Linked DNA regions of Homo sapiens: regions 1 and 2 are each linked to region 3. Evidence: fine-mapped expression QTL. A gene starts in region 3. Each other region holds a variant in brackets. All regions are shown on one strand. Distances are from middle to middle.

Region 1 (10,257 bases), 83 kb before region 3:
GTCTCAGTTGGGGGGTTTTAACTTTGTCTTTTCTTTTCTTTTTTTTTGAGACAGAGTCTCACTCTGTCACTCAGGCTGGAGTACAGTGGTGCGATCTTGGCTCACTGCAACCTCCACCTCCTGGGTTCTAGCGATTCTCTGCCTCAGCCTCCCAAGTAGCTGGGACTACAGGTGCACACCACCACACCCAGCCAATTTTTGTATTTTTTGTAGAGACGGGGTTTCGCCATGTTGGCCAGGCTGGTCTAGAACTCCTGGGCTCAAGTCATCTGCCCACCTCGGCCTCCCAAAGTGCTGGGATTGCAGGCGTGAGCCACCTCACCTGGCCATTAACTTGGCATTTTATTGTTATGAGAGAAGTTGACAGATTTTCTGATGTGAAGAGCCTTTTCTATGAGCTACTTTGCCCATTATTTTATTGAGTTTGTTCAGTTTATTATTAATTTTCAGGAGCCCTTATATGTCTTTGTCTGTGATAGGGATTTGGAAGATAAGTTTTCCAAGGATCTTTAAAAAAAAATTTTTTTTCAGAGGTTGGATTGATTTTTTTCTTCTGTGGTTTCTAGGAATCTTACTTACAAATAATTTTGGTTGCACGCAGTAGCTCACACCTGTAAATGCAGCACTGTGGGAGGCTGCTGTGGGTGGATCACTTGAGCCCGGGAGTTCAAAACAAGCTTGGGCAACATAGTGAAACCCCATCTCTACAAAAAATCAGCTGGGTGTGGTGGCACACACCTGTAATCCCAGCTACTCAAGAGGCTAAGGCATGAGAATTGCTTGAACCCAGGAGGTGGAGGCTGCAGTGAGCCATGAGCTGAGATTGCACCACTGCACTCCAGCCTGGGCAACAGAACAAGACTCTGTCTCAAAAAAAAAAAAAATTCCTTGCCTTTTAATTTTCAAATATTAACCAGTATTTAATAATTGTGTGTTTGTGATCCCCAGACGCTTGTTCTCTCTGTGTGTTCTTTGGAGCATTTCATTAAGTCTTTAATAGCTTTATCCTACAAGACCTTCTGATATGTTCCCAATTTTTTCTATAAAGAAGACTACCATCCACTAATTTTTTTCTGATTCCCTCCTGCTCTTGAAATCAAGCATCTAAGTATCTCACCAGACTTGGCCTAAGGCATAATTCCAGGGTTGGTGGTTTGGATACCAGCCTCACTGATGGCTCTGTTTGTCCCCCCACCTTCAGCACTGTCAGCGTTAGCACCTCCTCCTCCCGTTTTCCCTCCCTCTTCTCTCTCAGCATGAGAAAGAAACTGGTCCCTGTGGGGTCTGCATATTGTTTGATACTCTTTTCTTTAATAGGTGGAGCTTAATTCCCCTTGTGTTTGGCTTGGACTTGGTGACTGACTGCCAATGAGTAGAGTATGCAGAAGTGAGGATGTGTGGCTTCCCAGACCAGGTCACAAAGGCATTGGAGCTTCCTCGCTCTCTCAAACCACTTGTTCTGGGGTAAGTCAGCTGCCACGTTGTGAGGACACTCAAGCAGCCTTATGAGGAGATTCACATGTGAGGAACTGAGGCCTCCTGCCTGTAGCCATACCACTGAGCCATCTCGGAAGTAGGTCCTCCAGCCCTAGCCAGGCTTTCAGATGACAGCAGCCCTGGTTGATTCTTGACTGCAACCTCATGAATGACCCTGAGCCAGAACTGCTTAGACAAGCCATTCCCAACTTCCTGATCCACAGGAATCGTGTGAGCTAAAAAGTGTTTATTGTTGTTTCAAGCTGTTTGGTTTTGGGGTAATTGTTATACAGCAATAGAACAACACAGTATCTGTAGAAATTACAGCTGGGATGAATCTCAATCACTCAAAGCCCTTGTGCCTCTGGCATCGCCCACGGTTGGGTGCAAATGTGCCTGGAGTATAGCAGTACCCCAAATCTCTTCTTTCGGGCTGGGCGTGGTGGCTCATGCCTGTAATCCCAGCACCTTGGGAGGCCAAGGCAGGCGGATCACCTGAGGTCAGAAGTTGGAGGCTAGCCTGGCCAACATGGCAAAACCCCGTCTCTACTAAAAATACAAAAATTAGCTGGGCGTGGTGGCGGGTGCCTGTAATCCCAGCTGCGCAGCAGGCTGAGGCAGGAGAATCGCTTGAACCGGGAAGTGGAGGTTGCAGTGAGCCAGGATCGCGCCATTGCACTCCAGCCTGGGCGACAAGAGCAAAATTCTGTCTCAAAAAACATTTTTTTAAAAAATTATTTTCTTTTTTTTTTTTTTGGTGGCAGGGTCTCGCTCTGTCACCCAGGCTGGATGACAGGCTCACTGTAGCCTCCCTTGACCTCCCAGGCTCAAGTAATCCCCCCACCTCAGCCTCCCGAGTAGCTGGCACTACAGGCGTGCACAACCACACCTGGCTAATTTTTGTGTTTTTTGTAGAGACAAGGTTTTGCTATGTTCCCCAGGCTGGTCTCCAATTCCTGACCTCAAGGAGTCCGTCCTCCTTGACTTCCCAAAGTGCTGGGATTATAAGTATGAGCCACTGCATCCAACCACTCTTAATTTTGAGAGGTGACAGTGTGCTGGCAGTCCTCACAGCCCTCGCTCGCTCTCGGGGCCTCGGCCTTGGCGCCCATTCTGGCCGTGCTTGAGGAGCCCTTCGGCCCACCGCTGCACTGTGGGAGCCCCTTTCTGGGCTGGCCAAGGCCAGAGCCAGCTCCCTCAACTTGCGGGGAAGTGTGGAGGGAGAGGCGCGGGCGGGAACCGGGGCTGCGCGGCGCTTGCGGGCCAGCGCGAGTTCTGGGTGGGCGTGAGCTCGGCGGGCCCCTCACTCAGAGCGGCCGGCTGGCCCCGCCGGCCCGGGGCAGTGAGGGGCTTAGCACCTGGGCCAGCAGCTGCTGTGCTCAATTTCTCGCTGGGCCTTAGCTGCCTCCCCGCGGGGCAGGGCTCGGAACCTGCAGCCCGCCATGCCTGAGCCTCCCCCCACCCCGCCGTGGACTCCTGCGCCGCTGGAGCCTGCCCTATGAGCGTCGCTCCCTGTTCCACAGTGCCCAGTCCCATTGACCGCCCAAAGGCTGAGAAGTGCGGGCACACGGCGCGGGACTGGCAGGCAACTCCCCCTGCGGCCCGGGTGCGGGATGCGCCAGGTGAAGGCAGCTGGGCTCCTGAGTCTGGTGGGGACTTGGAGAATCTTTACGTCTAGCTAGGGAATTGTAAATACACCAATCAGCACCCTGTCTAGCTCAGGGTTTGTGGATGCACCAATCGGCACTCTGTACCTAGCTAATCTGGTGGGGGCCTGAAGAATCTTTATGTCTAGCTAAGGGATTGTGAATACACCAATCGGCACTCTGTATCTAGCTCAAGGTTTGTAAATGCACCAATCAGCACTCTGTGTCTAGCTGATCTGGTGGTGACTTGGAGAACCTTTATGTCTAGCTAAGGGATTGTGAATGCACCAATTGGCACTCTGTATCTAGTTCAAGGTTTGGCAATGCACCAATCAGCGCTCTGTGTCTAGCTGATCTGGTGGGGACTTGGAGAATCTTTGTGTCTAGCTAAGGGATTGTGAATGCACCAATCGGCACTGTATCCAGCTCAAGGTTTGGAAATACACCAATTGACATTCTGTACTAGCTAATCTAGTGGGGACATGGAGAACTTTTGTGTCTAGCTCAGGGATTGTAAACGCACCAATCAGCACCCTGTCAAAATGGACCAATCGGCTCTCTGTAAAATGGACCAATCAGCAGGATGTGGGTGGGGCCAGATAAGAGAAGAAAAGCAGGCGCCCAAACCAGTAGTTGCGACCCTTTTGAGTTACTTTGCCGATAATGGAAGGGGTGTGTTTTGTGATGTCTTGCTGCAGGTTGGTGTATATGTTTCTATTACCTTTGTGAGCTATAACGCTCACTGTGAAAGTCTGTAGCTTCACTTTTGAAGCCAGCGAGACTACGAAACCACCAGGAAGAACGAACGACTCTGGCTACACTATATTAACAGCTGTAACACGGATAAGGTCTTTAGCTTTGTTCCTGCGTGTTTTGCCAGAAGGAGGAAGCTGAGCACATCCATCCATCAGAAGGAATAAATTCCAGATATACCACTTTTAAGAACTGTAAGAGTCACCGTGAGGGTCTGTGGTCTTGTTCTTCAAGGCAGTGAGACCAAGAACCTGCTAATTCCAGACCCAATTTTAAAGGTCTGATAAGCCTACTTGAGTAGTAGTGATAAAAATGGGAGCCAAGTGCTGGTTAGAAGAGGGAGGTTCCATGCTTAGTAAGGCCCCAGCCTCAATCCTGGGTGGCTGTTTCTAAATGAGGACAGGCATTCCTGTTATGTCTAAAAGGTGTTTTTTGGCTTGCCACACCCCCTATCCTGTACCTATATAAATCCTAAATGCCAGGCTCCTGAAGCAGGTAAGGAGATAAGCAAATGGCAGCATGGCACGGCAGAGCAAAGAGAAAGTGCATGTAAATGCTGAGAGGAGTTAGGCTGGGGATGGTCAGAGAAGAGATTGGCTGTTGGGCGGCAAAATTCCACAGGAAGATCATCTTTCCGTCCTGTCCTTCCACCTCTCAATCCATCCAGCTGAGCCACCTCCACCACTCAATGAGACGGTTGCATTCATTCTTCAAGTCCATGTGTGACCTGATTCTTATGGTACACTGGACAAGAGCTTGGGATACGGAAAGCTGTCACACTGGCTCTCTGCCTTTGCAAAAAAGCAGAGGATCCACTGAACTGGTTAACACCTATGCCATCCATCTACAGATGGCAATGCTGAAAGGGCACTGTAGGGCTCTGCATGGTGGCTCATGCCTGTAATCCCAGCACCTTGGGAGGCCAAGGCAGGTGGATAACCTGAGGTCAGGAGTTTGAAACCAGCCTGACCAACATGGTGAAGCCACATCTCTACTAAAAATACAAAATTGGCTGGGTGTGGTGGCAGGCGTCTGTAATCCCAGCTACTTGGGAGGCTGAGGCAGGAGAATTGCTTGAATCTGGGAGGCAGAGGTTGCAGTGAGCTGAGATGACGCCATTGCACTCCAACCTCGGCAACGAAAGTGAAACCCTGTCTCAAAAAAAAAATCAGTCTTTCTAAGAAAGGGAGGTCAGGGGTCTATCATCAGGTGCCTGGAACAGTCAGATCAGTTGTCAACCTTGAGTTTTTCCAGACGAACTCAAGGGGGGCTGGATTTTCCCAGAGCTCAGGCTGTAGGCTGCTAGAAGCCATGTCAGAGTTTGGTCAAAGCTCTCAAGAGACAGATTTAGATGAAGTTTTTCAGGCCGAGAGTTTTTGCGGTTCTCAGAAGACAGTGGCATTGAGTACATTCACACTGCCGTACAACCATCAAAACCCTCCATTGCCAGAACTTTTTCATCTTCCAAAAATGTGTACCCATTAAACAATAGCTCCCCATTCCT[C/T]CTCCCCTTAGCCCCTGACAACACCAATTCTTTCTGTCTCTATGAATCTACTCTAGGAACCTCATATAAGTAGAATCATACAGTACTTGTCCTTTTGTGATTGATTTATTTCACTGAGCATAATGTTCTCCAAGATTCATCCATGTTGTAGACTATAAGAATTTCCTGCTGGGGGCAGTGGCTCACGCCTGTAATCCCAGCACTTTGGGAGGCCGAGGTGGGCAGATTATGAAGTCAGGAGATCGAGACCATCTTGGCCAACATGGTGAAACCCCTTTTCTACTAAAAATACAAAAATTAGCTGGGCATGGTGGTGTGTGCCTGTAATCCCAGCTATGCAGGAGGTGAGGCAGGAGAATCGCTTGAACCAGGGAGTCGGAGGTTGCAGTGAGCCAAGATTGTGCCACTGTACTCCAGCCTGGGTGACAGAGCGAGACTCCGTCTCAAAAAAAAAAAAAAAATTTCCTTCCTTTTATAGTCTGAAACATCTCAGTATTACATTTTGAATACGGTACTGTCTATGTGTAACACTTGGCTTGTTTTCATCTTTTGGCTACTGTGAGGAATGCTGCTGTGAACATCAGTGGACAAATATCTCTTCAAGACTCTGCTTTTAATTTTTTTTTTTTTTTTTTTTTTGAGACAGGGTCTTGCTCTGTCGCCCAGGCTGGAGTGCAGTCGTGTGATCATGGGCTCAAGTGATCCTCCCACCTCAGCCTCCTGAGTAGCTAGGACCACAGGGGCACACTGCCATGCTCAGCTAATTTTTCTTATTTTGTAGGGATGGGGTCTCACTATGTTGCCGAGGCCGGTTTCCAACTCTTGGCTTCAAGCGATCCTCCTGCCTTGGCCTCCCAGAGTGCTAGGGTTAAGGCATGAGCCACTGCCTTGGGCCTGCTTTCAATTCTTTTGCTTATTTACATTTGCATCGTTAAGGCTGATCATCTATTAGCTCCTAAAATCTTGTCGAATTAGTTTCTTGGAAACAGCAATGGTCACGGCCGCTTGGCTGAGGCCCACCTTGGAGATGAGATCTTGGGAGGGCCAGGTGAAGATGAGGGGCCTTCAAACAAGGAGGCAGTGCCATGGGGATCGCAAAGCTGGCTGCACTGCTGGTGAACTGGGGCTCCTTGGCATAGGCTTGGGAGCTGTGGTTCGGCCCAGGCAGCAGCACGTTGACTCTCCTGCTGGCTTTGAAAGCCTTTGCAGTTGCTGTCAGCCTCTGCCTAGCATGCTCCTCCTCCAGCTCCTTCCCCACCTTTAGCTCTCAGATCTCATATCTTCTCCTCAAAGAGGCATTCCCCAAACACCTTAGACTCAGCATTTCCGTGGCCAAGTGATTCTCTAGCCTATCACCTGTTTAGAACCATTACAGCCTTAGCCTATATTGCAACAATTTCTTTTGTTTACTTATTTATTCTCTGATCTTCAATGTTAAAAGGTAAACTGAAGCACACTAAAATATTAAAAAGTTTATTTGGGCCAGGTGTGGTGGCTCACGCCTATAATCCCAGCACTTTGGGAGGCCGAGGCAAGTGGATCATGAGGTCAAGAGATCAAGACCATCCTGGCCAACATGGTGAAACCCCGTCTCTACTAAAAATACAAAAATTAGCTGGGCGCGGTGGCGGGTGCCCATAATCCCAGCTACTCGGGAGGCTGAGGCAGGAGAATTGCTTGAACCCAGGAGGCAAAGGCTGTAGTGAGCCAAGATTGTGCCACTGCACTTCTGCCTGGCGACAGAGCGAGACTCCGTCTCAAAAAAAGAAAAAAAAAAAAGTTTATTTGGCAAACGGTAATTCATGAATCTGGCAGTTCAAAGACCACAGGTAATTTGGGGCTTCCCTCAAAGAGGTACTAGGGGAAGGCTTTTACAGGGTGAACACGGAAGCAAAACAAATAAATTCATTTCTGTGTAAAATCTTGTTAGAGGTTAGTTGGCAGTTTGTGATGCCTAGAATATGACCATTTACAGGGAGTTGGGTTTCAGTTTGCTAGGTAGGAACCCAAGGTGCTGGAGTCTTCTCAGCCTAATGACCTCCCAGTGAATTATTTTGGCATCAACCATGCTGTAAGCACCGTGAGGGTGTGGGTCTTACCTGCCTGCATCCAAGCAGTGCTTGGCACATAGTACATTGTATACAAATTGTGGAATGACTATGATGATTTTGTGCGCATGAAGAATGTCGGCACCTCTAGTTATAGTCTAAACAGCACTGGGGAGGAGGCTGTGACCCCAGGACCCTGGTCACCTAAACCTCCCTGACCCAGGAAGTAGGCTTAGGAAAGATCTCTGGCACAAGCAGTTGGAGAAGGTCCTGGCAGGTGAGTAGAATGCAGACAATCATGATCTGAAGAGGGCTTGTGGAGGTCCAGGCACAGGAAACAACCACACTCAATCCTGGGATTGAGTTCAGGTACAAGACTCCATTCATTAGAAGAACCCCTGAGAACAGACAGGCTCAGCTAAGAGCAACGGGCCTGACATCGGAGTTACTTGACTAGGGCTGGACCCAAGGAATGCTGTCAGGAGAGGCTGATTAGTGGACCCAGGAATGGAGGCTTGAGTGTGACTAGCCACTCTGTGGCTAATGAGCTCTGTGTTTGCCAATGGGCTCATGGCTGTGAGGGCAATGCTGTGATTCAGCCAGCATTGGTCTAGATCCTGAGGTGGGGGTAAATAGTCTCAGCATTATGACTATGGGGCAATGGGAACCAGAAACCAGGCAGGCCATCCGAGCAAGCGTGGTACATTTAAAAATGATGTTTTACGGGACGTAAAAAGCACAGACCATCAAGGAAGGGTAGAAAAAGTAAATGTGTTAATATTATTTTATTTTATTTATTTATTTTTGTTAAAAGACAGCATAAACAAGGCTGAGGAGGATCACTTGAGCCCAGGAAGCAGAGGTTGCAGTAAGCTGTGATCACACCACTGCACCCCAGCCTGGGCGACAGAGTGAGACCCTATTTCAGAAGAAAGAAAGAAAAAAAAAAGCAGAAACTCAAACAGATACTGTATGCCAATTTTTATAGCAGCATTATTCCCAATAGTCAAAGGGTGGAAGCTGCCCACATGTCTGTCTATTAATAGATAAATGGATAAACAAAATGTTCTATACGTGTACAATAGATTTAATATTCAGCTTTGGGGCTGGGCACGGTGGCCCACACCTGTAATCCCAGCACTTTGGGAGGACGAGCCGGAGGAACGCTTGAGCCCAGGAGTTTGAGACCAGCCTGGGCAATATAGGGAGGCCCCTCTCTACAAAAAAATAAATTAATTAGGCCGGGTGCAGTGGCTCACGCCTGTAATCTCAGCACTTTGGGAGGCCAAGGCAGGTGGATCACTTGAGGTCAGAAGTTTGAGACCAGCCTGGCTAACACAGTGAAATCCCGTCTCTACTAAAAATACAAAAACTAGCCAGGAGTGGTGGCAGGTACCTGTAATCCCAGCTACTCGGGAGGCTGAGACAAGAGAATCATTTGAACCTGGGAGGCAGAGGTTGTAGTGAGCTGAGATCATGCCACTGCACTCCAGCCCAGGTGATAGAGTGGGATTCCATCTCAAAAAAAAAATTATCCAGGTGTGTTGGTGCACACCTGTATTCCCAGCTACTTGGGAGACGGAGGCAGGAAGACTGCTTGGACCGGGGCAGATCAAGGCTGCAGTAAGCTATGATCACACCACTGCACTCCAGCTTGGGCAACAGAGAGACTCTGTTTCTAAAAAAATAAAATAAAAATAAAATTATTCAGCCTTAAAAAGAAATGAGCTGGGGGGAAGGGAGAATGGGGAGTTATTATTTAATGTTAACAGTTTCAGTTTTGCAACATGAAAAGGAGTTCTGTGGATAGCTAGTGGTGATGGTAGCATCACAATGCGAATGTACTTAATGCCCCTGAAATGTACATTTCAAAATGATTAAGACATAAATTTTATGTGATGTATATTTTGCCACAACTTTTTTAAAAAGCAAGGAAATTCTGACACAGGCTACGACATGGATGAACCTTGAGGAAATTATGCTTAGTGAAAAAGGCCAGACACAAAAGGACAAATATTGTCATTCCACTTAGATCAGGTCCTTACAGTAGTCAAACTCATAGAGACAGAAAGTAGAATGATGGTTGCCAGGGGACTGGGGAGGAGAGAAAGGGGAGTTAGTGTTTAATGGGGACAGTTTCCGCTTGTGAAGAAGAAAAAATTCGGGAGATGGGTGGTAGTGTTGGTTGCACAAAATTGTGAATGTACATAATGCCGCTGAACTGTGCAGTTAAAAATAGTTAAGGCCGGGTGCGGTGGCTCACGCCTGTAACCCCAGCACTTTGGGAGGCTGAGGCGGGTGGAAAATCAGGAGTTCAAGACCAGCTTGGCCAACATGGTGAAACTCCACCTCTACTAAAAAAACAAAAATTAGCCAGGTGTGCTGGTGTGGGCCTGTAGTCCCAGCTACTCAGGAGGTTGAGGCACGAGAATCGCTTGAACGTAGGAGGCAGAGGTTGCAGTGAGCCAAGATGGTGCCACTGCAGTCCAGCCTGGGTGACAGAGTGAGTTTCAAAAAAAAAGTTTAGATGGTAAATTTTATGTATATATATTTTACCACAATATTTTAAAAAAGACAACACAAACAATGGGAAAAGACAAGCTATGGACTAGGAGAAGACATCTGTTTGGTTTTTATATCTATATTCATTGATTTATCCTGTCTGGAAACAAAGTTTCTGGATCAGAAAACAGACCAATTATTTGCTCGAATAGCAGTCTGATTGCCAACTCCCCATCCCTCAGTTTCCCACAGGGCAGCACAGTGTGACCCAGATGTACCCTGCAGATACAGGCCTCTGTGCCACAGGCAAGAGCTTGGAAATGATGCA
Region 2 (10,257 bases), 130 kb before region 3:
CCTTTCCTCTTTTTCCATTTCCTTGCAATACCTTCCCATTTCTGCCTTTGCTCAACTTTGCTCCGCCTGGTGAACTTTAAAGCTCCAGTTAGAAAGCTCTCTGGAGGGGTATTTCAGCAGAAATTGTTTTCATAGGTGTAGTCTCCTACAACTATAATAGAAGTAGTCACACTGTGTCACTTATTATACTAAGTCCCTAATTCTGTCACCCTCAATTATGAACTTTTATGGAACAGGAGTTTTCTCTATTGCCAAGTACCCAATATCTGGCCCATAGTAGGCAATCACATCTGTTAATGGAATAAATAAGTGTGTCATTTTTATTCCTCAACTTTTTAACTTAGCACTGACTTTCTTTTTCTTTTTCTTTTTTTTTTTTTTAAATGGAGTTTCCCTCTTGTTGCCCAGGCTGGAGTGCAGTGGGGCAATCTCGGCTCACTGCAACCTTTGCTTCCTGGGTTCAAGCGATTCTCCTGCCTCAGCCTCCCGAGTAGCTGGGATTACAGGCATGCGCCCCCATGCCCAGCTAATTTTGTATTTTTAGTAGAGATGGGGTTTCTCCATGTTGGTCAGGCTGGCCTTGAACTCCTGACCTCAGGTGATCCATCCGCCTCGGCCTCCCAAAGTGCTGGGATCATAGGTGTGAGCCACCGCACCCGGCCTCTTTTATTTATTTATTTTTTTGACGGAGTTTCGCTCTTGTCACCCAGGCTGGAGTGCAGTGTGCAATTTCGGCTCACTGCAATCTCCGCCTCCCAGGTTAAAGCAGTTCTTCTGCCTCAGCCTCCCCAGTAGCTGGGATTACAGGCACCCAGTAGCTGGGATTACAGGAGCCCACCACCACTCCCGACTAATTGTGTGTGTGTGTGTGTGTGTGTGTGTGTGTGTGTGTGTGTGTGTGTGTGTGTGTGTTTGAGATGGAGTCTGGCTCTCTCACCCATGCTGGAGTACAGTGGCACGATCTCGGCTCACCACAACCTCTGCCTCCCGGGTTCAAGTGATTCTCCTGCCTCAGCCTCCAAGTAACTGAGATTTCAGGTGCATGTTAGCATGCCTGGCTAATTTTTGTGTTTTTAGTAGAGACGGGTTTTCACCATGTTGACTAGGCTGGTCTGGAACTCCTGATCTCATGATCCAGCCGCCTCAGCCTCCCAAAGTGCTGGGATTACAGACGTGAGCCTCAGCCTCCCAAAGTGCTGGGATTACAGGCGTGAGCCTCAGCCTCCCAAAGTGCTGGGATTACAGGCATGAGCCTGTAATTAGACTGCACCTGGCCTAATTTTTGTATTTTTAGTAGAGACGGAGTTTCCCCATATTGCCCAGGCTGGTCACAAACTCCTGATCTCAGGTGATCTGCTGGCCTCACCTCCCAAAGTGCTGGGATTAGAGGCGTGAGCCACTGTGCCTGGGTCAGCACTGATTTTCGTGTCTAAACTCAAAAAAAAAAAAAAAAAAAACCTCTGCTCCCACTATTTTTTCCTTTCTTCTATATAGAGAAGAGAACACTCAGTTTTACAAACCAAAAGAACCCTTTGGAATCTTTGTCACCCTCGTTTCAGTCATTGTTTGCTCAGAGAGCTTTCTTCAGTGCAGCAGCAATAAAGCCGTATATTCAAGATTTACAGCCAGCCTTTGCAATTCCCTTCGCCGACTGCTCAGGATTTAAGGAATGGTTCTTTCATTCTTTAGGTCTCTGTATTCCTTTAGTAAATGCTAAAGCATTTACTAAATGCAAAAGCTAATTATTTAAATTTAGTAAAAGTAGCATAACTTTTGAAAAAGGGGGGCTAGGGATCCCCCTAGGCTAGAAGAGTTTGATTTATTGTTACTTTTGGGTTGATGGCAGCCTTTTTGGTGAGGTCTGTGCTGGAAAGCTAACTTGTACCATTAGACCTCACTAAATGCTTTCCTAAGTGTGAGGAGGTGATACTTAAAAAGACTGGAACAATTTTATACCAAAACTGGGACATGGATGTGCCTTCTGCAGTTTGAATATAAAAGAAAGTCATTTTTGTTTTCTTTCCAAGGCCATGGAAATAGCATCTCAAAGGACCAAGGAAGAACGGTCTAGCCAAGATCATGTGGATGAAGAGGTAGGATTTATTATCTATTCACAGCCTTTGGAAACACTTGTGTTTTGAGGGTTTTTTTTTTTATGTTGCTAGAGCATAAACTTGATTTAAATAGATAAGCAGCTTTTTCAAATGATGGTAATATTTCCTTAAGATATATTATAGTAAATGATTTAAGTGAGCCAAGTTGGATAGTTTACATTTCACTGTATTGGTCCACTCAGCAACCTGTTAGCCCATTGTCCTAGATGGAGAAAATTTTTAAAGAGCCTGTTAGGATATAGGCGTCAAGAAGGAAAAGCCTGTTTTTAATTTGCAAATGTGAGTTTTTAAATGACTTAAATATTGATTCTAGAAATGTTATAGATTTTAAATATTATGCTTTGATAAAAACGAGTCAGGGTGTTTTTTTGTGAAGGAGCCATAGTAGGCTTTTAAAAAAAATTCTCACAACTCTTAATGGTTGACTATGAGGTGCCCTGTGTTTGTCGGCAGCTCTCCACCTTTTTCACTGTAGCAGCTGGGTATGTTTCGTAAGGCATAGCCAGGCAGCGCTTGCCAACTGTAATTCCGCCCCTTTCCCTCCTGCTCAGAAAAGCTTTTTGGAACAAAAATGAAGGAGAAGTGTTATTCTAAGGATAATCTTGAATCAGCTCTAATGTTTTTTTTCCCTTCCTTAAAATAAATCATATGCAAAATTTAGTGTTCTATCATTAGTAGTGTTACTTTTGGGACACCACATCACAGATGGGATACCAGTGTGTGCAGACAGCTTAGCCAAGCATCAGTGTTAGGGATGAATGAATATATAGATTCCCCTGTAACCTGATGGAGGAGTATGCTGTGTGAATGTGAGAAGTGTATGAATAACAGTTTTGATTTTGCTTTTCCTCTCTGTTAGGTGTTTAAGCGAGCATATATTCCTAGAACCTTGAATGAAGTGAAAAATTATGAGAGGGATATGGACATAATTATGAAATTGAAGGAAGAGGACATGGCCATGAATGCCCAACAAGATAATGTAAGTAGCTTGGTTTGTATATAGCAAGCAGCTCTTCAAAAGTAGTAGGGGACTGTCCCAAACCTATCTGGGCCTTTTAAGTTCCCCTAATCTTGAATATTGGCTTCTGAGCTAGTGAAATGACTAACTCTATCTGTGTTAACTTG[T/G]GTGCACATTGAACGCAAAGGGAATTATTTGGAATTTATGAGAGGAGGTAACACATTTGAATGAATCCAACAAGCTGTAATTGTAGAAACAAGATTCAGATAGAAGTCTAGGCTATTAATGGTTATTATATTAGGTCCATTAACATATATTTCTTTAACATACATCATTCAGGAACAATTTCTTTTTGGTGAAGGGTCAGATAGTAAATATTTTAGGCTTTGCAAGCCAAGAAACAAAATTGAGGTGATTACGTAGGTCCTTATGTAACAAGAGAGAAAAAAATTCACCCTCAATTTTTATTCGTGAAATTAGAAATACTTTAATAATAGTTGAATACACTTTTGTGTAATACAAGTATACTAAAGAAGAGTGGAATTATTTGATGTGGGGCAGATAATATTTCACTTAATTGGGGCTCAAAGTTTGTGTTTGCTATCTTCAAATTGATTGCAAATGTTTATCTGTAAAAACTACCAGGTAGGCTGGGCGCAGTGGCTCACACCTGTAATCCCAGCCCTTTGGGAGGCTAAGGTGGGCGGATCACTTGAGGTCAGGAGTTCGAGACCAACCTGGCCAACATGGTGAAACCCTGTCTCTACTAAAAATACAAAAATTAGCCAGGCATGGTGGCGTGCTCCTGTAATCCAAGCTACTGGGGAGGCTGAGGCACGAGAATCACTTGAACCCGGGAGGCGGAGGCTGCGGTGAGCTGAGATTGCGCCATTGGACTTTAGCCTAGGCTACAGAGCGGAACTCTGTCTCAAAAAAAAAAAAGGCCCAGTACGGAGGCTCACACCTGTAATCTCAGCACTTTGGGAGGCCGAGGTGGGTGGATCACCTGAAGTCAGGAGTTCGAGACCAGCCTGGCCAACATGGTGAAACCTCGTCTCTACTAAAAATATAAAAATTAGCTGGGCATCGTGGCAGCTGTAATCCCTGCTACTCAGGAGGCTGAGGCAGGAGAATCTCCTGAACCCCAGGTGGTGGAGGTTGCAGTGAGCCAAGATCGCGCCACTGCACTCCAGCCTAGGCCACAAAGCAAGACTCCGTCTCAAAAAAAAAAAAAAACAACTACCAGGTGGCTGGTTGGATTTGGCCAGTAGATCTGGTAGACAGAAATAATATCAATATTATAAACTTCCTGTGTTACAGTGAGATTAATTTTAGATACCTTTTTATAATCATAGGAGACATTATTTAACCCACATTGTTCTTAATAGTGCAATATGCATATTTCATTGTCTAGTTTTATGTTGATCCTTATTTTTTTTTTTTCATTTTGGTTATAAGATTCTATACCAGACTGTTACAGGATTGAAGAAAGATTTGTCAGGAGTTCAGAAGGTATGAAGAACATGTGTTACTGTTTGTTTATGTGAAAACAGTTTTAAAGGATATAAACTCTAGTCATACTGTTTTTTATTATTATTTAATATTATTAGAACTAAATGTTATTTTATATTGTTAAAATGTTATAATTGCTTTCAAAGTCTGTGGACATCTTCAGAAATGCCATTTTTGTGTTCTTTCTAAACACAGCACTGAAATTTGGAAATTAATTTATTTTTCTTTCTGTCTCTGAATTGTTCAGTGATTGCAGGTGAGGTATTTATCTTTTTGTATCCTGGTCGTCATTTGTGGAGCTCTTAATGATAGCCATTGTGCTTCTTGATGGTTTTACAACCAGCTTAGGAGAACTTTGGAATGTAGTCTCCTACCAGGGTATTACTTGTTAAAGAACAATCTCATGAGTTCAGCAAGTCCTGCTGTGCTGGATTCCTGTGATGTTCTTTTTTCTTAAAACAATCTTGTTTTGTTTTACATTTTAGAAGGGCAGGGATTAAGTAATTCTAACTTAGGCAGTCATAAAAGCAGTCTTTATTTTTTTAAATCTTCCTAATTGAAGACTTAAATAAAGGATCACAGTTTGCTTTCTTAAAATCATGTCTTTTCTGTGGAAAGAATTGAATTAGGGGAATTCTGGTATTTTGCATTTCTGAGTTATAATAACAGGTGTCATAAGGAAGTTATGCTTTGGATTCCAGAGCATGAAGATTTTATTGCAGCAAGCTAGAAAATCTTGTTGTACAATTGACTTCTAAAGATCTGTTTTTTTCTTATAAAAGGGAAACCTCACTCTTAAAAACTGCTAGGAAGCGCTGTATTAGACAACTGCTGAATTTCAGGAAGTAATGAAAATTTCTCTTCTTCACATATTGTTTTCCCTCCCAATTGGATTAGTTTATTGCTAGAAATGTGGTTCACAGGAAAACAGCTGTGAAGTTATCCATATAAATCTTCATTTTCTACCTCTATGTATATTTTGCCTCTTTCCCAATCCCAACTAAATGCTCCTGATTAGCTGAAAGAAGGAGAACAGCTCTGTTGTTGATCTAGGTCACGCAGTAAAGCCCTGGTTCCTTCATTTGAGTATGTTCTGGAGCCTTACTTGGAGTGGCTACTTTCATGTTTCCCTCCTGATGTTCATTCTGGTGTTTTGATGTTTCAGTACAGGATGTTAGTTTTTAACATATATTTGCGAGCCTAAAATCTGAATTCTGGCATTAACACATTTAACAACAACACATAACTTGGTTTGTGTGTTGTTTAGAATAACATGGTTCTTTAATAATTTCAAGGTCCCTGCACTCCTAGAAAATCAAGTGGAGGAAAGGACTTGTTCTGATTCAGAAGATATTGGAAGCTCTGAGTGCTCTGACACAGACTCTGAAGAGCAGGGAGACCATGCCCGCCCCAAGAAACACACCACGGACCCTGACATTGATAAAAAAGTAAGCAATGAAATACCTTCCCCTTTTCTTTAGTGTGGGAGCACAGCCGCTCTTATTTCTCTTTGCTCAAGGATCTAGCTAGATTATGATGGCTGAAAACATTATTGATAAGTACCTCTAATTACAGTTTTAATACCTAAGTGTGAACTTGACTTTTGGTGGTAACATTATCTTGAGATTGGGCTGCTCATCAGAGCACCTTGGGCATTGCCTAGAGAGAGCACGCACTAAATTCAGTACATTTCACATGAAGTACAAGTGATGTTAGAGTTGACCCAGGGTAAATACTGAAGAGCCATTTCAGGGGGATTTATAGCCCAGCTTGATGTTTCTGGAATCTGAAAGACCATATAATAGTCCCCCCATCCATGCTTTCAGTTTCTACTGTTTCAGTTCCCTGCAGTCAGCCTTGGTTTGCAAATATTAAATGGAAAATTCCAGAAGTAAACAATTTATAAGTTTTAAATTGCTCACCGTCCTAAGTAGTGTGATGAAATTCATGCTGTCCTCCTCCATCCTGCCTGGAATGTGAATCATCACGTGGTCCAGCGTCTTCACACTGTCGACACTCCCCACCCGTTAGTCACTTAGTAGCCTTCTTGGCTATCAGTTCAGCTGCTGTGATGTTGTGGTGCTTGTGTGCAAGTAACCCTTACTTTGCTTAATAATGACCGTAAATTACAGGAGTAGTGATGTTGGAATTTCAGGTATGCTTTAGAGAAGCCATAAAATGCTTCCTTTAAGTGGAAAGGTGACCATTCTTGACTTAACAAGGAACTCATGCCTGTAATCCTAGCACTTTGGGAGGCCAAGGAGGGCGGATCACTCCAGACCAGTCTGGGCAATAGAGTGATACCCCGTCTCTATTAAAACATTGGTGATGAGCACCTGTAGTCCCAAATACTTGGGAGGCTAAGGCAAGAGGATCCCTTGAGTCCAGAAGTTTGAGGTTCTAGTGAGCTGATCATGCCACTGCACGCCAGCCTGGGTGACAGAGTGAGATTCTGTCTCAAAAAAATAAATAAAAGGAAAAGAATCATATGCTGAAGTTGCTGGTGAGAATCTTTTATCCGTGACATTGTGGAGAAGGAAAAAGATGTTTGTGCTGGTTTTGCTGTCTCACCCCAAACTGCAAAACTTAGGACCATAGCATGTGATAACTGCTTAGTTAAGATGGAAAAGGCATGAAATTTGTGGGTGAAAGACGTAAACAAAAACATCTTCCAGTTGATGGCACCATGTTGCACCAGAAAGCACTGAGCCTATACGAAGGTTTCAAAGGTTTCAGCAAGGGTTCCCCTGAAATGAGTGCCACCAGGCCATTTACTGTAAGGAATAGTTACACAGATTCAGGAATAGGTTTGGACTAAAAAATAGAAAAATTACCAGAGAGGCTGCATCTGCCAATGAAGAAGCTACTGTCACATGAGTATGATACTGTGGGATATTTGGAGAGAGAGACCACATTCAAATAACTTTTACTATAGTATATTGTTACCATTCTGTTATTAGTTATTATCTCTTACTGTGCCTAATTTATAAATTAAACCTCATCATAGGTACGTATGTATAGGTAGAAGCATAGTATATATAGGGTTTGGCACTATCCACAGTCTTAAGCATCCACTGGGAGTCTTGGAACATATCCCCCATGGATAAGAAGGGACTCTTGTATTTCTTTAATCCCTAGCCATAGACATAGAGACACTGCTGACTGAGTGCTATGTGACTATTATTATTCCATCTTAGTCTAATCCTTTAAACCTTATACAATGTGGGTCCCAAGACTTCTGAGGGACATACTCAGCTGCTAGCATATTTTCTCATATGTCTACTAGAAACACATATTTTGTCTCTTTCCAATGTCTATTTCTGTTAGAATATGGAACTTGTAAAGAAAAGTATTTGCAAACATTTAATAACATTCTTAGGGATATTTCTGTTTGGCTGTCTTCACATTTCTATTAAGGAAGCTCAGCTGGGCGCGGTGGCTCACGCCTGTAATCCCATCACTTTGGGAGGCCAAGGCAGGTGGATCACGAGGTCAGGAGATCGAGACCATCCTGGCTAACATGGTGAAACCCTATCTCTACTAAAAATACAAAAAATTAGCCGGGCGTGGTGGCAGGCGCCTGTAGTCCCAGCTCCTTGGGAGGCTGAGGCAGGAGAATGGCGTGAACCCAGGAGGCGGAGCTTGCAGTGAGCCGAGATCACGCCACTGCATGCCAGCCTGGGCGACAGAGACTCCGTCTCAAAAAAAAAAAAAAAAAGAGGAAGCTCAAGGCCGGTTATGGTGGCTCATGCCTGTAGTCTCAGCTACTGGGGAGGTTGAGGCAAGAGGATTGCTTGAGCCCAGGAGCTTGAGGCTGCAGTGCACAATGGTCATGCCACTGCCCTCCTGCCTGGGTGACAGAGTGAGTCCCTGTCTCTAAAAAGAAAAAACTGAAAGACAGTTTTCACCCCAAGTTCCTCCACCAACCCATAATCATTTTCTTTTCTTTTCTTTACATTACACTCACTTTTATTCTTCTATGTGTGTATTTTATTTAGTTATAATCATAATAATACTCCAGGTGGGTGCAGTGGCTCATGCCTGTAATCTCAGCATTTTGGGAGATCAAGGTGGGTGGATCACTTGAGCCCAGGAGGTCGAGACCAGCCTGTGCAATCTGGCGAAGCCCCATCTCTACCAAAAAATACCCCAAAAAAACCTAGCCAGGTGTGGTGGTGCACACCTGTTGTCCCAGCTACCCAGGAGGCTGAGGTGGGAGGATTGCTTGAGCCCAGGAGGTGGAGGCTGAAGTGAACCATGGTCACGCCACTGACTCCAGCCTGGGCGACAGAGCAAGACCCTGTCTAAAAAACAAAAAACAAAAAACAAAAACAAAAAATGCATACTCCAAATGAATGAAAGTTGGCTTTTTTGTTTGTTTTTTACAGGAAAGAAAAAAGATGGTCAAGGAAGCCCAGAGAGAGAAAAGAAAAAACAAAATTCCTAAACATGTGAAAAAAAGAAAGGAGAAGACAGCCAAGACGAAAAAAGGCAAATAGAATGAGAACCATATTATGTACAGTCATTTTCCTCAGTTCCTTTTCTCGCCTGAACTCTTAAGCTGCATCTGGAAGATGGCTTATTGGTTTTAACCAGATTGTCATCGTGGCACTGTCTGTGAAGACGGATTCAAATGTTTTCATGTAACTATGTAAAAAGCTCTAAGCTCTAGAGTCTAGATCCAGTCACTGACTCTGTCTGGTGTTGACAGAGGATTTATTTAAGCTATTATTTTAATAAAGAACTTTGTACATTTTTATTTTTATATTTTTTTCTCTTACAAATATGTTTTTGGAAGCATGATAAATGTTTAAATGTAGTCAACATCTGTAACTCTTACATGAGTGTCCAGAGGCACTCATGGGAAAATTGGTTTTGCTTTCTTTGTACACACCAGAGACCCATCTGAGGTCATCTGATTATAAGGCCATGTTTATATAAAGGGAATTTCACCCACAGTTCAGCTGGCTGTTGATTTTCACTGCAACTCTGCCTTTGTGTGTATTGGCGATCATTTGTAATGCTCTTACACTTCGTCTTTAATGTTCTTTTTGGAGTTAGGACCTCTCAGTTCATAAAGTTTTTTACAATTCAATCATTTGGCATATTCATTCATTCATCAAAAATTTGAGTATTTTAGTTGCTGGGGATACAGCAGAAAACAAACTAGACAAAAATTACTACCTTTGAGTAGTTTACATTTTGATAGGAAGATAAGACATTAACCAAAGTAAGTAAAAAGCAGTGTATCAGCAGGTGATAAATTCTATGGAGAGAAATAATGCAGAGATGAGAGGGCGCCTATAGATGAAAGAGTTTGCAGTTTAAAATAGGGTTCTTGGAAAGGCCTTACTGAGGGCTGATATTTGAGCAAATACTTGAAGAAGGTGAATTGTTTGCATAACAAGAAGGAAGAACATGCCAGGCAGAACAACCAGCAGTTGCAAAGCCCTGAGGCAGGAGTGTACGTGACATCTTCCAGAAACAGGGCTGAGACATCATCATCAAGGGAGAAAGTAGTAGATGCAATCAGATAGTGTACGGCTGTGGGAGGGTTTTGGCAGGGGAGTGATATGATCTGACTTCTGTTTTAAAAGGATTACTCTGGCCTCTGTGGAGAATTGATCAGGAAGCAAGGGTGGGAGACCAGTGGGTATGTTCATTGAAGTAAAC
Region 3 (10,257 bases):
GAGCTTACAGGCATGAGCCACCGTGCCCGGCCCAAAAAACATATTCTTAAAGCACAATGGATAGCACAATTTACCTGTGCCAAACACAAACCAAATGGCAACAACAATAACAATAAAAACTCATCACTTCAGTGACAAAAAATGAGAAGTTCCTTTGAGCTATTTAATTTCCACAAAGTTAAGTACCCTCCCCCAGCAAAAATGAAAAATCACTGCAAACAGACAAACTCCCCTGTTCCTGAATGACACTTAAACCAAGTAAACCAAAGATAGTTTGGGGTTAATGTATATATTTTACAAACATTTTCCTATTTTTGAAACGAGCTTTGTCAAACAGCTTTCTTCATTTTGACAATTTTAATTAGGAGAGACCAATCTTATTTTTGTGATAATTCAGATCCTAGATTCATTATTTCTGGAGGATTCTAATTTATTCAGACAAATGGAAGAGAAAAGAAAGAGTAAAATATACATATCCATTTTATTATTAAGATTTTAATTGTCTGACATTTTAACAGGCATTTTCTTTTCCTTCACATTATGGTTCCAATCCTAGCTTCTGCCTGTAATTTTGACTTATTAAAATACTACTCCTTGGCCGGGCACTGTGGTTCATGCCGGTAATCCCAGCACTTTGGGAGGCCAAGGTGGGTGGATTGCTCGAGCCCAGGAGTTCCAGATCAGCTTGGGCAACAAGGTGAAATCCTGTATCTACAAAAAATACAAAAATTAGTCCAGTGTGGTGGTGTGCGCCTATAGTCTCAGCTACTGGGGAGGCTGAGGCAGGAGGATGACTTGAGCTCAGAAGGCAGAGGTTGTAGTGAGCCAAGATCATGCCACTGCACTCCAGGCTGGGCGACAAGTGTGAGACTCTGTCTCAAACAAAACAAAACAAAACAAAAACCCCAGAACTACTCCTCTGTTAGGCAGAACAGTTATTTTAACTCATGGGCTATAAATCTTCTTGTGATGAAGAGGTATCATTTACCAACACAAAGATATAGAGAGTTCCCATGGGATTTTGAGCAAGTAAATGATTCTTCTTAATCTCACTGAAATCAAAGTGTCGTTTTCTTTTAAAAATCTGCTCTGAATATGACTGATTCGTCTTTCCTAACTGCAAGGTGATTTCTAAGGTCAGCCAGAGAGAAAGTTGCCTGTCAGTGATCTGTTTTATCAGTACAAGGGGAGCTATCTATGAGTGGCAGGGAAAAAATAGCTGACCTTAGGTCAGCCAGTGAAGACTCTGCCAGACTTTGGATTCTGATTTTTTAAACCAAGTTGTAAGAAAACAAGCTACTTTTAAACCTCTTTGCTGCGCTTTCAAAATTCTATAAATATACCTTCATTATAGCATACTTAATGTTGTATTGTAATTATTTGTTTTACTACTGCAGACTTTGATATCCTGCAGAAAAAGAGTCATGCTTTATTCATCTTCATGTGTCTAGCATTGAATCTGTTGTGTAACATGGTAGATGTTCAATAACTGCTTTCTAAATGAATGCATCTTAAATGTGTCCAAGAGGGAGGTTTACTGATTTACATGTGGGATAAAGACAGGAACATTAACGGTTAAAATTTCGCATCCAGCAAAGAACTTTTGGCTTAACAGGTGGTACCTTAAGCTTTATATGTTTCACAGTGTTCAAGAATGTTCACGTATTTTATCTCATTTGACCCTCACTGTGGATTTGGAAGGTTGGCAGAGCAAGTGTTATTTCCATTATACACATGAAGAAATTGAGCTCTTGCATAAGTAAATTGTAGCACTAAGATTATAACTATGGGCAAGTTATCCTCGCTCTTCACTGTGTGATGAGCCAACCTGGACAACTGATGTGTGTGTGTGTGTATGTGCATGTGTGTGGGTGTGTGTTGAGGTGGGGGGTGTTCCATCTGTCGGGCATGTCAATCTGTTTATTTTATCCTCTTATCTTTCTTTATCACCCTTAGAGAAAGATAAATGAAAGCCACTGTCTTCCTAGAGCAGGCATGTTTGGTAGCTGGAAGCCGTTCGTGTTCTTGGGGATGCCTGGAAAAGCCCAGGAAGCAGTAAGATGGGTGAGGAAGCAACGCAGCCAGAGGTGTGATTGGTGGCGTGGGCTCTTCGCCTCCTCCTCTGTTTTGCCTGCAGATTGAACAGTTTTGTGAGTCTGGGTGGTGTTTGGGTCTGTGTGGAGCCTGGTTCCTATGACCGTAAGGGGACCCTTGGCTAACAAGAGCTTTTGTTACCACTGGGGGGGTGGTTAATAGATATGTGGGTTTTTTTTAAAAGGATAATTCTACCGTGCAATTGTGTAGCCTCTTTATTACACATTAGGGAAGAATAATCCCTGAATTTTTTTTTTTTTTTTTTTTTTGAGACAGAGTCTTGCTCTGTTACCTGGGCTGCAGTGCAATGACACGATCTCTGCTCAATATAATCTCCACCTCCTGGATTCAAGTGATACTCGTGCCTTTGCCTCCCAAACAGCTAGGATTACAGGCGCCTGCCACCACACCCAGCTAATTTTTGTATTTTTAGTAGAGATGGGGTTTCATCATGTTGGCCAGGCTGGTCTCGAACTCCTGACCTCAAGTGATCCACCCGCCTCTGCCTCCCAAAGTGCTGGGATTACAGGCATGAGCCACCGCACGGGCCCCTGAATTTCTTAAATCAAAGTTTTACTATAATATATTTAAGGGCAGTGACTGGACCCTATTTATCTTTGTATGTTGCAGAGTATTTCCATATCCTAGGTTATAATTATTTGCTGAACAAATGAGATGCATAGAGGGAAAACATCCTAAATGAAATGTTGTACATTATGCACTGACATTTTCCCTCCATGCATGTCTTTCTCTCCTCCACCAATGGATATTATGGGCTGTTTGTGCAGAGGCTGACTTCCAGCCATTGATTCTGTTTGAGAAAAACCACCGTCTTGTCTATAGATCAGTGTTTGTACAGGTTGAGCATCCCTAATCTGAAAATCTGAAATCCAAAATGCTCCCAAATCCAAACTTTCTGAGCACTGACATGATGACCACAAGTGGCGAATTCCACACCTGACCTCATGTGATGACTTGCAGTCAAAGTGCAGTCAAAACTTTGTTTCATGCACAAAATTATCTAAAATATTGTATAAAATTACCTTCAGGCCATGTGTATAAGGCATATAGAAAACATAAATAAATTTCATGTTTAGGCTTGAGTTCCATCCCCAAAGATCTCTCGTTACGTCTATGCAACTATTGCAAAATCCAAGAAAATCCAGAATCCAAAATATTTCTGGTCCCAAGCATTTTGGATAAGGGGTACTCAATCTGTATAATCATTTAAACACTTGACCACTTTGGTTTTATTAAAGATTCGAGGAAATTGAGACTACGATGCAAATTATTGGTTGTGCTAACAGTGATAAACTTTTATCTCATTATATGTGTTTACTCCTTGAATTTAAGACGTTCAGCTGTAAAAAGAAAAAGAACAAGACATTTTGTCAAAAATTATGCCTAAAGGGTCAAGTTGTCATGAGAAGTGCTATAATACGACAAATTTTAGAAAGTCCCCCCCACTCCCTTTACAACATAAAAATGTAGTTTTTTATTTTTGTTTTCAGTTCATAAACATTTTGGAAACGCACTGTATCAGAAGGTAATTAGCGGCATTGTTTGGAAAGATGAAAAATTTATTAGAAAAGATCTTTAAATGGCTTTTACTAAAGCGTCATTTAACAATTTTTCATATTATAGAAACAGCTTTTCATGGATGGTGTGACTGGGTCTGTATCCAAACCCGGTTCGGTTCCTGGAGCCAACGGCGTAGTTAACACTCAGCCTCTTGCAGTTAACACTCAGCCTCTTAACTGGGAGTGGCCCTGGAGCAAGTCGCTGGAATGTTCAAGCTCCGCGTCACTCATCGGTACCAAGTTGATGATCTCTGCCTAGGGTTCTTCGCCACCCTCAGGCTCAAGTCCCAGGAGGCCTCCTCCGCTGACTTGGGTGAACAGCTCTGAGTTCCGGAGAGGGTTCGGTCTGCGGAGAAGCGCGCGAGAGACAAGCATCCTCAAGGTTCTGGTACAAAATTTGGAAAATGGACCTGGCGTTGAAATCTTTACTCCTCGTTTAAAAAGACCATCGAAAGGGAAAAAATAAAAGAAATTGCAGTTTATATTTTTGTTATCCCATGAAAAATTAGCTGCAGTGTTTTCCTCTTCATGCCAAAGAGATTAATATTTACGGTGAAGACTTTTCCAGGAAGTCGTGGTTTTCTGTAAAAAAAGGTTTTACACATCAGAAATCGGACTTCTGGGGCAATTTCCTGAATTCCTGGAATAAAACAAAACAAAAAAAAGCCCCCAAACAAAACTCTATCATCTAAAGCGTTCCCTCCTCACTGTGGTCCTAGTCAATGCGTGGTAGGTAGCGTTTCCAGTGATCAACAAAAGTAAATATTTGACCAGTAAGTCTCCAATCGAGAGGCCCCTCCATTCCAGCTATTTCCGCCCGGGGACCGAGGAAATCCTCAAAAGCCGGGCCACGCATTCCCAGCCCGAGAGGCCCCAGCGCAGAGCGCAGCAGCCCCCGCGAGCGCAGGTCCTCCCCGCGGTGGCTTCGCCCAGGGCGCTTGGGTCTCGGGGACCCCGCCCCCGCCCCGCCCGGTGTTACTCAGGCCTCGGTGGCGCAGGGCGGAGTCGCGGGCGGCGGGCGCAGGTGGGGAGGGGCGGCCGGAGCGCGTCGGTGACACCCGCGGGGGGGCGGGGAAGGCGCGGCGGCCGCACCCCACCCTGGGAAGAAACCGGCCAGGTGTGGCCTAGGCGCCCAGTGCCAGCGGGGAGGAGACTCGCTCCGCCGCCGACCAACACCAACACCCAGCTCCGACGCAGCTCCTCTGCGCCCTTGCCGCCCTCCGAGCCACAGCTTTCCTCCCGCTCCTGCCCCCGGCCCGTCGCCGTCTCCGCGCTCGCAGCGGCCTCGGGAGGGCCCAGGTAGCGAGCAGCGACCTCGCGAGCCTTCCGCACTCCCGCCCGGTTCCCCGGCCGTCCGCCTATCCTTGGCCCCCTCCGCTTTCTCCGCGCCGGCCCGCCTCGCTTATGCCTCGGCGCTGAGCCGCTCTCCCGATTGCCCGCCGACATGAGCTGCAACGGAGGCTCCCACCCGCGGATCAACACTCTGGGCCGCATGATCCGCGCCGAGTCTGGCCCGGACCTGCGCTACGAGGTGACCAGCGGCGGCGGGGGCACCAGCAGGATGTACTATTCTCGGCGCGGCGTGATCACCGACCAGAACTCGGACGGCTACTGGTGGGTACCTGCCCGGAGAGCGCGGGCTGCGGGGCTCGCGGGACAGGGAGGGACCGTCCTCCTCTGGACGACTGGGAGACTCGGGTCCCGAAGGTGGAAAGGTTTTTTTGCCCCAGGTCCCGAAAGAACTTCCCGGCCGCGCTGGGAGCAGGACCGGGTGTCCTGACGCGTGCGGGGACAGGTTGGCCCCTGTCCTGCGAACAGGGACTCGGTCGTACCTTTCTCCCCTCCCGCGAGCCCGGGCGGGTGGTCAGAGGGGGCGTCGGGCCCGCGCGGGGCTGTCCCCTGCCTGCTGGACACGGCTGCAGCCGCCTTTGTCCCAGCCCGCGAATGGGAGGTCAGGCGAGGTGGGGCTGCGACCACAAAACCCAACCTCTCCAACCGTAATCAAAGTAAAAGAGGAAAGGAGCGGGGCCCCGGTCCTGTCTGGTGGCCGAGTGGTGCTCGGGGCTCCGCAGTCTCTACCGGCTCACCCCCAATCCCCAGTAACCCCGAGACCACGACTGCAACGACTCCTGGACTCCTCGGCCACCCAAGGACGTTTGTATCAAGGCTGCGCGTCCCGGCGGCGCGGGGTCCTGTCCCGAGGAGGCGCTTCGGCTTCCCCTGTCCGGGAAACGAAACTTCCCCGCCGGGGCGGCTGCCGGGCCCGGGTCTCGAAGTTCGGCCGGGACGTGCCTGTTACCTTCGGTCGTCCGCGCCGCAGCCCCCGCGGGCGAGCGCACCTGGGGCCCTGCCTCTGAGCCTTTTGTTTCCTCCTTTTTAAAAACACCGGATGAAAGACCCCAGTGTGCCTTGGATCGCAGAGCGCCGGCCGCATGTCTGCTTTGATCCAGAATGTGTGGGCAGGGGAGTGGGGGGGTGGGAGAGGACGACGCTGGGGGCCCGCCCTGGCCTAGGCGCCCCGGGAAGACCCCCCGGTGAGAGGGTCAGCTTCTCCGGATCCCAGCGGAAACAGACCGAGGGCGTCATTTGGGTGGGTGGGGAAGAGATCCTGTCCCTGCTTTGACCGGGTCTCGGGAGCTGGACTCTAGATGCCCACGTGAGCCGTGCGCGTTTTGCAGCCCGCCCCACCTCCCCGCCCCCTGCTAGTTGTTCCCACGTCGGGCTTTTGGGAAAGAGGCCCTGAGCGCCGGGACGTTATTTACCAGGCGTTGTGGCCCTAGGCCTGGGAGGAGCAACCTGAATGCGCTCCAGGGAGTTTTGTTTTGCAAGCAGTTTTGAAGGCAGGGACTACTCGAGTTGCAACCTGTTTTCTGCTTAGATTCATTTATTTATTTATGGGGCATCCTGAAAATCTATTTTCGCTTTTTTTTTTTTTTTTTTTTTTGAGTTAGCAAAGAATTGTCTCAATCTTGGAGTTCTTTGTTTCCTGAACAAAATGTGTCTGGGGATTTCCAGGGAAAATGTGCCAAGCAATAGAAGGAATGAAAACTTGGGTTTTCATTACATTTGTTTTAAAATTTTGCCAGCCATTTAAATCTGAAATTTAAATTTTCTCCCGCAGTCCTCCAGGATTTGAGATGCACATCCTTTAAATGTGTGGGTTACACACAGTTTAAATCCAAGTCAGAATAGAATGCGAAGGACTCTTTAGTAGCTCTTTTTGGCGTTTTCATGAACCAAGTATTTATTTTGATTATTATTTATAACTATGCTTTTGCTAGCTTGGATTTCTTATCTTTTAAATAGACAATAATCAGTACTATTAATCGAATATTTCACTCCCTTGGCTTCTTATACCTTTTGTAGGGGAGTAAAACTTTAATAAATTAAGTGGTTAATGAACTGCATCAAGGTACATGTTTTATTAGGATTCCCCATTGAAACATTTAATTTTGGGCAGGCTCCATGTTTTTTCCTTGTGTAGTATCATCCCGTGCTCTGTTTTTCCAACTTAAAGCCTACTTACAAACTTGTCAAGTCTCACATCTCTCTGGGAAGGGGAAAGAGACCCAAGTGAAAAATTACCTGACTTTGAGGAAGGATGTTTTTTCTTCTCATTAATGTTGCTCTGCCCGGCAGCAGGGCGTCAAGCTCAGGGCTTGAGTCGGGAGGCGGTCATTCTTTCCGGGGATCCTGGCAATGGAGGTTCCTCTCGAGCCTGACCCAGCCTGCAGTGGTGCTACTGACTACAAAATAGCCCACAAATGCTGACTTCTGCGTTTTCAAATAATAGCGACCGCCTGAAGGCAGGGCATGTCGCAGTTTTTCTGGTGGCATTCTGGTTTTGTGTGGAGGGATATGTTTGGCTGTGGCGTGCACTTTGTAGAAGCAGGGTGCCCTCTGTGCCCAAGGGAGCCACTGCTCTCTGCTAAGTGAATGATGATTAAGAATTTCATAAGTATTTTTCTGACCCGAAGGTTTTCTAAATAAAGGTTTTTGTGGTTTTCTTTTCTTTCTTTCTTTTTTTTTTTTTAGCATGAAAACTAGTATAAAAACTATTGGTTGACTTTAAACTCATTTATTTCAAAAACTGCTACTTTATGGCTGAATTATTAATAGATTGGTGATTTTTGAGATGAGTGTTTTGTATCTAGCCCTTCCCTGAATAAAGAAATTTGAATGTGTGGAGGGCCCAACTCTTAGTTTTCCTTTGAAAATGACTTTAAAACATCTCTCTCTCTCTCTGTCCTTTCCACGAACAGCACTTACCCGTTTTTAGGACAGTATTAGATCTCATTGTATCCTAATTCCCTCTTTTTCCCCCGACCACCTGCCTGTTCTTTGTGTCTTTGTTTTAGATTGAATGGAATCTGCAACTACTTAATTTTGTTAACATTTGGTAAATGTTACAACCTTGATAATGAAATAATAGACATGTACATGTTTTGAAATGTAAATTTTGGATTCTTCTTGGATAGGACATTATATTAATACTGTTTTCAATTACAGCAGAATTACTCTAGTCTTATTCCTGTCATTAAAACAAATTATAAATAGTGAAATTTGTTACCAAAGTAACAAAGTCTCACAGTTAGATCTTTCTTTCACCCATCAAAGGGTGAATTTGTGGGAGGATTAAAAGCAGAAAATAGTCATTAAGTTTCAGAAATATGTGGTTATAATATTAATGCTTATTTTTCTTCAGATCTCATGATTTCAAAACTGAGATACGTGTGATCATTATTTCATATACATTTTAAAGTTAGTCTTAAATTAGGTTTTAAGAGAAGCTTATTTCTTACTATGAGACAAACAGGTCAATTTGCCTGAATTTTAGAGCGGGGGGACCCCTAAGGATCACTTAGCCTAGGCAGAAACCCCACACGCACACTTCAGAGACAGGAAGCTGAGGACGTGCCGAAGATCCTAGAATCCACTTAGGGCTGGGTTGGCCTGAGGACCCAAGGATCCTCACCTTGGTTTTCCCTGTGCCTTCACAGCCTGACTTTTAGAATGGACAGGCCTGTAATTACACCATGCAAGTATCTCAAATTCCATTAATTCCTTAATTCAGCAAGTATTTACCGAGCATTGACTGCATTCTGTGTTAAGTGTCAGGGGAGATCAAGGTGGAAATCTATAGCCTTGAAAGGAGTGTAGGCCCTTCCAAGGAAGATAAGTACACGAAGACTAGCACGCAAAAGCGGAATGCACAGGAGGGGTGTACGTGACTTCAGAGACTTCACAAGGAGGTGAGAGAACATCTGTCGTGGGGGCACTGGGAAGACTTTATAAAGGAAGTGGTGTCGAACTAGACTTTGGAGTATTTCAGCTGTGTCAGGATGGGTGGGCAGAGAGCCTTCCAGAGGGAGAGAAGAGCATGAGAAAAGTCTGCGAAGCCTGTGGAGTGATCTCCTTTTAGAGCATTCTCTCTGAGCAGGGAGGCAGTAAGATGAAAGGAAGAAGCATCCTTTTTTGACCAAGGCATTGGAGACCTTGAATGCCCCGGAGAGGGATTTGGATAGGCAGAGGGAAGCTGGTGCAGGTTTTCACTGAAGCCATTGAAAGTCTCCTCCATTGGAGGAGCAGGGAAGTGAGACGATCATAACTGAGCTTCTGGACTGTTTAGGCGTTGGCTTAAGGAAGCCATTGCACCAGTGAAGGAGGGAGGGAATGAAAGTCTGAACCAGGGTGAGGGCAGTGGATGGAAAAGTAGGTATTGCCAAGGTGGAGTGACAGCTTCAGCTAAGAATTGGATGCGAGAGACAAGGGAGAGTCTGAGAAAACAGGCCCAGAGCTCGAGTGACTCATAGCGTAGATAGTCTAAACACTTTTCTGGGAAATTATTGCAAAGCAAGATTTAGTTTAGCTTAATATACGGCAGGTAACATTTACATGGTTATTAAATTTAACTTGTATATTTTATAAAAATATCAGGTCTGTGGTTAATAATAGTTACCATTACCCAGCAAATACCTGTGATGTGCCTTGTATAGGATGTTTGTTATCTCAAGCCTCATAACAAACTTCCCAGTTTACAGATGGGAAGCTGAGGTTAAAATATTTAAATGGCTTGCCTAAGGTCACACAGCTAGTTAAGTTGTTAAGCTAGATTTGAATCCAGTATACCACAATGACGCAAGAGAAGATTAAACCTGCAGTGTGAGAATTCACCTTTTCTACTTGTAAACCCTTTTCTATCTGAGTTATTACTTATTTTTAATCTGTTGAATTCCTCAGTCTGCGTTCCTGTGAAATATTTCATAATCATTGTATTCTTTCATTAATACTCTTGTAGAGTTTCTATCTGCTTAGGAAAAAAGAAACTCAATTTGATTCTGCATTAAGCCAACTAATTGTTAGTCAGATCTATTTAATGGGACAATACAGCTTTCAACAGTCATTTTTTTCTCTAAATATGGGCATAATTTCATTGTTCAGGTAATGGAAGTGTCTTGGAAAGGGAAAAACTGCTGATGCCCCTGATGCCTCAGTGCTGACTTCTTAGGGTGGAGCAAAGGAGGGCTTGGGTGTGAGACTTGGAGAGTGTGTCTTGACTCTCAGCTAACCAGTCTTTCCAGAC

The links. PIP is the estimated chance that this variant, and not a neighbour inherited with it, causes the effect.
Region 1: its variant is the best candidate, but not a certain one, in a credible set for the expression of DSP in whole blood (TOPMed, PIP 0.77).
Region 2: its variant is the best candidate, but not a certain one, in a credible set for the expression of DSP in esophagus muscle (GTEx, PIP 0.50).

The regions. Positions count from the first base shown.
Region 1 is chr6:7,453,667-7,463,923 of GRCh38, forward strand. No RefSeq gene overlaps it. Among named protein-coding and RNA genes, the nearest start is that of RIOK1, 69 kb to the left of the region's middle. RefSeq lists enhancers at 2,292-2,911, 10,243-10,257. The variant C/T (reference allele first, on the strand shown) is at 5,380.
Region 2 is chr6:7,408,359-7,418,615 of GRCh38, forward strand. It overlaps RIOK1 (RIO kinase 1), which reads left to right. Exons shown (of 17, transcript NM_031480.3): 13 at 2,028-2,093; 14 at 2,974-3,093; 15 at 4,531-4,584; 16 at 5,880-6,032; 17 at 8,973-9,679. The coding sequence ends at 9,083. Among named protein-coding and RNA genes, the nearest start is that of RIOK1, 24 kb to the left of the region's middle. RefSeq lists an enhancer at 4,535-5,305. The variant T/G (reference allele first, on the strand shown) is at 3,240.
Region 3 is chr6:7,536,798-7,547,054 of GRCh38, forward strand. It overlaps DSP (desmoplakin), which reads left to right and starts at 4,874. Exons shown (of 24, transcript NM_004415.4): 1 at 4,874-5,288. The coding sequence starts at 5,119. It overlaps DSP-AS1 (DSP antisense RNA 1), which reads right to left and starts at 6,286. Exons shown (of 2, transcript NR_183331.1): 1 at 6,249-6,286; 2 at 3,654-4,256. RefSeq lists an enhancer at 84-2,862.